Linked DNA regions of Homo sapiens. The protein of the gene in region 1 interacts with the protein of each later gene in a pairwise test. Each region holds a gene or a part of one and is shown in the gene's direction. Other genes may lie near its edges.

Evidence for each region.
Region 2: the proteins of PSG3 (region 1) and SKIL interact in a two-hybrid assay, tested with the Homo sapiens proteins (one large-scale study listed by BioGRID and IntAct).

The regions. Positions count from the first base shown.
Region 1 is NC_000019.10:42,723,211-42,727,032, reverse strand, and holds part of PSG3 (pregnancy-specific beta-1-glycoprotein 3 precursor), read left to right. Parts: intron 1-3,007; coding exon 3,008-3,051; 3' UTR 3,052-3,091; intron 3,092-3,822.
Region 2 is NC_000003.12:170,378,179-170,382,000, forward strand, and holds part of SKIL (ski-like protein), read left to right. Parts: intron 1-3,065; coding exon 3,066-3,163; intron 3,164-3,822. UniProt on the Homo sapiens protein: May have regulatory role in cell division or differentiation in response to extracellular signals.

The DNA.
Region 1 (3,822 bases):
CCTTCCCCATTGAACGATCTTGGCACACTCGATGAAAATCATTTGGCCATATATGCAAGCATTTCTTTCTGGGTTATTATATTTCATTAATTTCTATGTCCTCCTTTATGCCAGTACCACAGTGTATTGATTACTGGGGCTTTGTAGTAAATGCTGAAATCAGGAAGTGTGAGTCCTCCAGCTTCATTCTTCCTCTTCAAAGCTGTGTGTCTATTTAGAGTCATGAGATGCAATATAAATTTTAGGACAGATTTTTTTTTACTGCAAAAATGTCACTGAGATTCTGATAGGAATTTTATTGAATCTGCAGCTCACGTCAGGTAGCACTGTCCTCCTAACAATATTGAGTCTTCCAATTCATGAAAACAAAATGTCTTTCAATTTATTGATGTCATCTTTCATTTCTTTCAGCCATATTTTGTAGATTTCAGGTATAATCATTTTACCTCTTTGGTTAAACTCATTCCTAAATATTTTATTCTTTTTGATGTTAATATAAATTGAAATTTTTTTTCTTAATTTCCCTTCAGATTGTTCATGGTTAGTGTATTGAAATACAACTGATGTTTGAATGTTGATTTTGTATTGTGCAACATTACTGAATTTATTTATTAATTCTAATAGGTTTGTTCCATCTTTAGGATTTTCTACATATAAGTTCAAGTTATCTGTAAACAGAAATAATTTTACTCCTTCCTTCCAATTTTAACGTCTTTTTTTAAATTCTTGCCTAATTTTTCTGACTAGACCTTTCAATACTATGTTGAATAAAAGTGTCAAAAGCAGGCACCCTTGTCTTGTTCCTGCTCATACAGGGAAAGCTTTCAGTCTTTCTCCGTTGAGTATGATGTTAGCATTGGGTTTTTCACATATTGCCTTTACGTTGAGGTGGTTTCCTTCCCTTCTTAGAAAGTTTTTATTATGAAAAAATATTGAATTTCATCAAATGTTTTATTGATTCAATCTTATTACTGATTATAGTTCCATTCATATTTTTGTGTGTTTCTAGGGGTTTGTCTACTTCATCTAGGTTATCCAATTTATTGGCATACAATTATTTATAGTACTTTCATAATCATTAGTTTATTAGAATTGGTAGTAATCGCTTCATTTTTCTTTTTTCTTTTTTTTTTTTTTTTTTTGGTTGTTGTTGTTGAAGAGAGAGAGACAGGCTCTCACTCTGTAGGCCAGCCCAGGATGGAATACAGTGGTGTGATTATGGCTCACTGCAGCCTCAACCTCCTGGGCTCAAGTAATTCTCCTTCTTCAGCCTCCCAAGATGCTAGGACTACAGGTGCATGTCACCATGCGCAGCTAATTGGCTTTTTTATTTTTTTGTAGAGACAGGGTCTCCCCAGGTTACCTATGCTGGTCCAAACACCTGGTCTCAAGAAATCCTTCTGCTGTGACTTCCCAAAGTGCTAGGATTAAAACATGACCCACCATGCTCAGAGTCCATTTTCATTTCTGATTTTAGGAATTTTAAACTTTTCTCTTTTTTTCTTAGTCAATCTAGTTAATGGTTGTCAATTTTGTTGATTTTATTTTGAAGAATCAACTTTTGGTTTCATTAATTTCCTCTATTCTTTTTCCATTCTCCATTTTATTTATATCCACTCTAATCCTTATTTTTCCCTCATTCACTGTGCTTGGGTTTAGTTTGTTCTTCTTTCATATCCTGAAGTATTAAAGTAGGTTGTTGACCTGAGATCTTTCTTCTTTTTTAATGTAAGAGTTTACAGTTATAAATTTCTTGCACAAGACTCAATTTCTCTGAACCTCTGATACCTCACCTGAAAACTGCAATAAGAGTGCTTTCTTCATACCTTTCTTTTAAAGGTTTAATGCAGTCAATAAAACGAGATGCCACACACAGTGGAACCAATGTCAGCTGCTATATGACTACCATCATCATTAGCCTAGAGGTCAAATAGTCCTAGAATCAAATCTCAGATCCACCTGTCACTAGCCATATGACACCAGGAAAGTTTTACACCACTCTAAGCTTCTGTCTTTTCATCGGCAAAATGGAAATAATGTCTACCTCACAGGGTTATTGTGTGGATTAAATGAGATACAGGGAAAGTATTTAGCACAGGGCCTGGCACATAGGAAGTGCCCCTCAACAGTACCTTCCTTTTTCCATATATATATATATGGAAAAAGAGGTAACACATAAAACACTAGGACATGGTTACTGACTACTTGTGGGAGAGAAAGAAAAAAAGCTAAGTGCAAAGAATCAAGCCTGGTATGTTAGTTTTTACTGACTGAGATGCATCCAAGATGGGATTAGACATACAAGATAACTTATCAGGGAAGACACCTGTGAGGGAATGTGGGGCAGGCATGAAGGTAGTACGGGAGAACCCACAGACCACTATGCAGAGCTGATTCCTGTGAAAAAGAAAGAGAAAGAAGTTTTAGGTACCAATTCAATTATAAGAGTTTTTGCAAGGCTGATGGGGAATCCTCCAACCAGTCACCCATTAGAGTTAAAGAGAGCCTCAGAGAACTAGACTTGCTTTCACGCCCTTGCTGGGAGCCTGTAGGAAAGAAGCTTTCTGTGCAAAGGAGGTGGTGAATTTGAAATGCACTGACCTGGGCCTTCTGTCAATCAAGTCTCTGCCATGGAGACCTGGCAGGGTCTCATTCATGACTGCCACAACAGAGACACTGAGAAAAAGATGCAACCATGAAAAGGTGCAAAGGTGGCAAGTTCTAATGACATAGAAAATAGCAATCAGCCTTTCTCACATCTGAAAGCCTTCCAAATATCTGAGCACAGTAGAGAATTGACAGAGGACTGATCACCAACTGAGAAACAGGGTGAGAGGGAAAAAAAAACTGCAAGAATATAATCATCTCCTATCAATTTTCCAACAGAAATAACGTAGTCCTTGAAGAAACAATTATAGAGTACCTCATGTTACATGCTTGTTCCTGAGGCTCCCCCATGTAAAATAACATCATCTTCATTCCTTCTTTTCTTTTTTTTCCATGACAGCTCCTTCAGGAACAGGACATCTTCCTGGCCTTAATCCATTATAGCAGCCGTGATGTCATTTCTGTATTTCAGGAAGACTGGCAGGTATGATGACCTTTCCTCTTATCCTGGTTCCTGCAGGGCTAACTGCCATGCTTGGGAGAGGGAAAAGACTTATTTGCCTGTATCTGGGACTGGATCTCCTCCTTCCTCCACTAACTCCTGCTTCTCAGCACTAATTCCTGCAGTTCCCTTTCTCCCTGGCCTTTATGCTCCCTGTACCCCACTGTCTTTTAGACATAATTATCTCCAGCCTCTCTCTCTGCTCATTTGTTTCTCAGATTCAAATGAAAAACACAATTTCACATGGTGAAACCCTCTTCATTATTTTTAACATCTCTCAATAGTGTAATTCTCTCCATTCCCATAAAGCTCAACCACTTCTCAAAGTATTGCTTGACTTCTTGTCTCCAGACTTTGAAATCTTCCTTGCATATGACTGCCTCATTACCTTTCTAAAATCTAGTTAATTCACTTAATCAAGAATCTCCAGGGGTCTACTCTAGCCACTTTGATAAGTTCACATTTCTTCTATTTACTAAGCCTTCTCACTTCCTTTACCGCTACTTCCTAGTATAATTCCTCCATCCTAATTAGAACTGTCTTCCTACACACCCCTGTCCCTTCACCCATATAGATATAAAATTCTTAGTTCCAATGCTATGTCTGAAAACAGAGTGAAATCCCCTCTACCATCTGCACTGCAGACTTAACCACACCCTTCATCACAAGCAACATCTGACCTCGTGGAGAACTAAGACTTTAGGATTAACATG
Region 2 (3,822 bases), on another chromosome or scaffold:
CTGTGCCCTGCCTATTTTTGTCCTTTAGTTGGCCCTAAGTCATCTCCTGACTGATCAGATTTTAAGATACATATTCTAAGAGCGGTTTCCTTTCTGTTTTCAGCCTGTTTTGTTGAGGGCAGTGGGTTACTTGTCAGATCTCTCCCAGGTTTCTTCATTCTCATTGATTTCCTCCATTAGTAGGATCTCAGTAATCAAACCAGAGTTTGGATAGTTTAGAGTTGATTTTGTTTTAATCACTACTGCTTAACATCCAGAGATCTGTTTGCAGTCCTTAGTTTCTTGGTTCCAAACTGGAATATTGGGACATCAGGCAAAACAGCTTTGCTACTTTCCTAATTTGTTGAATTGGGAATTGGACTCTCTCTCTCTCTCTTTTTTTTTTTTTTTGGAGACAAAGTCTTGCTCTGTCACCCAGGTTGGAGTGCAGTGGCGCGAACTCAGCTCACTGCAACCTCTGCCTCCCGGATTCAAGTGATTCTCCTGCCTCGGCCACCCAAGTAGGTGGGATTACAGGCACTCACCACCATGTCCAGCTAATTTTTGTAGAAACGGCGTTTCTCCATGTTGGCCAGGCTGGTCTCAAACTCCTGACTTCAGGTGATCCACCTCCCTCAGCCTCCCAAAGTTACAGGCATGAGCTGCTGCACCCGACCAGAATTGGAGCTTCTTTTATTTATTTATTTATTTATTTATTTATTTATTTTTTTTATCTTGAGATGGATTCTGGCTCAGTTGCCCAGGCTGGAGTGCGGTGGTGCAATCTCGGCTTACTGCAGCCTCCGCCTCCTGGGTTCAAGTGAGTCTCCTGCCTCAGCCTCCCGAGTAGCTGGGATTACAAGTGCGTACCACCATGCCCAGCTAATTTTTGTATTTTTAGTAGAGACTGGGTTTCGCTGTGTTGGCCAGGCTGGTCTTGCTCCTGACCTCAGGTGATCCACCCTTCTCGTACCACCACGCCCAGCTAATTTTTGTATTTTTAGTAGAGACTGGGTTTCGCTATGTTGGCCAGGCTGGTCTTGCTCCTGACCTCAGGTGATCCACCCTTCTCGGCCTCCCAAAATGCTAGGATTACAGGCATGAGCCACTGCGCCTGGCCATGGAACCTCTTAAAGGTAGGGTTTAGAGAAATATCCAGCTCTCTTTTTTGTTTTTTCCCTTGTTTAACTCGTTCCTAATCGCATTCTCCCTCAGTTTCCTGGGTTTGTCTGTTAACTTCCTATTTTTGTTGGTCACCTTAACCATGCCACATTTCAGCTCTCCTTTCCTTCTTTCCCCTTTCCCTTACCAGTGAGTCTTGCCCCCCCTTTTAAGTATCCTTTTCCCACAAAAGCAAGGTAATTTCGTATAATAGGAAATATGTAGGGGATGAAGGGAGGACAAAGTGTAAATAAAGTAAACCAAAATAAGGGAGAAGTTAGTAACCACAGATCATTTATTCTTTTTTTCTCTTCAATTTCTTTTTTTGTTTTGTTTTGTTTTTTGAGACGATTCTTGCTCTGTTGCCCAGGCTGGAGTGCAGTGGCATGATCTTGGCTCACTGCACCCTCCATCTCCTGGGTTCAAGTGATTCTCCTGTCTCAGCCTCCCGAGTAGCTGGGATTACAGGAGCGCACCACCATGCCTCGTTAAGTTTTGCGTTTTTAATAGAGATGGGGTTTTGCCACGTTGGCCATGCTGGTCTCGAACTCCTGACCTCAGGTGATCCACCCACCTCGGCCTCCCACAGTGCTGGAATTACAGGTGTGAGCCACTGAACCGAGCCCCTCTTCAATTTCTGAACGTCAGTTGTTTTCTCATCTGTAAAATGGTAATGATACCTATTTAATGGGGGATATTTGTTAGAATTAAGAATGATGTATAAAGTTCTCAGCCCGTAGATGTTCATTAAGTTACCAGTTACCTTTCTCCTTATTTTTCTTTATTTTTAGTTATAGCTCATCTTTAAGTATTAAAAAATCCTTTTTATATTTATTAGGAAATATAGTTTAATGACAAGTGTTAGCAAACTATGTGGTTTTGGATTTAATTTGGCAAAGTATTGCTGTAGAATGGTATCTAGCTAATATGCTAACAAATACTGTAGGGATAGGGTATAGTCTAGCCGATTGTAGTACAGGAATAAGAATCAATTTTCCAGTGCTATACCTTTATAGAGTTCTATTATTTAAAATGGATTTCTGGCCAGGCTCAGTGGCTCATGCCTGTAATCCCTGCACTTTGGGAGGCTGAGGAGCAGGGATCACCTGAGGTCAGGAGTTTGAGATCAGCCTGGCCAACATGGCAAAACCCAATCTCTACTAAGAATACAAAAAATTAGCTGGGTGTGGTGGTGGGTGCCTGTAATCCCAGCTACTCAGGATACTGAAGCAGAGAATCGCTTGAACCCGGGAGGTGGAGGTTGCAGTGAGCCAAGATCGCGCCACTGCACTCCAGCCTGGGTGACAGAGCGAGACTCCATCTCAAAAAAAAAAAAAAAATAAATAAATAAAATAGATTTCGTAAGTATGAAATTTGATGCAGTCATTTCTGGTACTCCATGTTAGCATGCATACTGAAACTGTTCTTGTGATGGGATAGTTCATGTGGGTGTCTCTGAGTTTCAGGTGATAATCAGGCTTCTTCAAGGGAAGACTGCCTTATTGGAAGATGACTCTTGAGACAGGGTCTCACTCTTGCCCAGGATAGAGTGCAGTGGTGCAATCATGGTTCAATCATGGTTCACTGCAAGCCTCAACTTCCTGGGCTCAAGGGATTCTCCCACCTCAGTCTCCCAAGTAGCTGGGACCACAGATGTACACCACTGCAACTGGCTAATTTTTTTTTTTTTTTTTTTAAAGAGACTGGGTCTTCCTATGTTGCCCAGGCTGACTCCACGGCTTAAGGAATCTTCCCCACTCTGCCTCCCAAAGTGCTGGGAATACAGGTGTGAACCACTGTGCGTGGCATGATGACTCTTAAATAATGTTAGTTGTCTTTACCCAGTGGCCCAGTCAGGTTGACACATAAAATTAACCTTCACAGTTTTACTTCAATAAATGTTTCCCTTCCATGTTTTTCTGCAGACAGATGCACCATCAGGAATGGAATTACAGTCATGGTATCCTGTTATAAAGCAGGAAGGTGACCATGTTTCTCAGACACATTCATTTTTACACCCCAGGTGAGTTGGTATTTATTTGTTCGTTTGTTCATTCATTTCTTCATTCAACAACTATATGCCATGCACTATTCTAGGACATGGGAATTTAATTATTTATTTATTTTTTTTGGTGGCAGAGTCTTGCTCTGTTACCCAGGCTGGAGTGCAGTGGCGCGATCTCGTCTCATTGCAACCTCCGCCTCACGGGTTCAAGCGATTCTCCTGCCTCAGCCTCCCGAGTAGCGGGGACTACAGGCTCACACCACCACGCCCTCCTAATTTTTTTAGTTTTAGTATAGATGGGGTTTCACAGTGTTGGCCAGGCTGGTCTCGAACTCCTGACCTCAAGTGATCTGCCTGCCTCAGCCTCCCAAAGTGCTGGGATTACAGGTGTGAGCCACTGTGCCTGACCACGAATTTATTTCTTTATTTTCAGGCTTTCTTGTTAATCATAGATTATCTTTGAAAATTCAAAATTAGGCTGGGCGCGGTGGCTCATGCCTGTAATCCCAGCACTTTGGGAGGCCGAGGTGGGTGGATCATGAGGTCAGGAGATCGAGACCATCCTGGCTAACACAGTGAAACCCTGTCTCTACTAAAAATGCAAAAAAATTAGCCGGGCCTGGTGGCGGGCACCTGTAGTCCCAGCTACTCGGGAGGCTGAGGCAGGAGAATTGCTT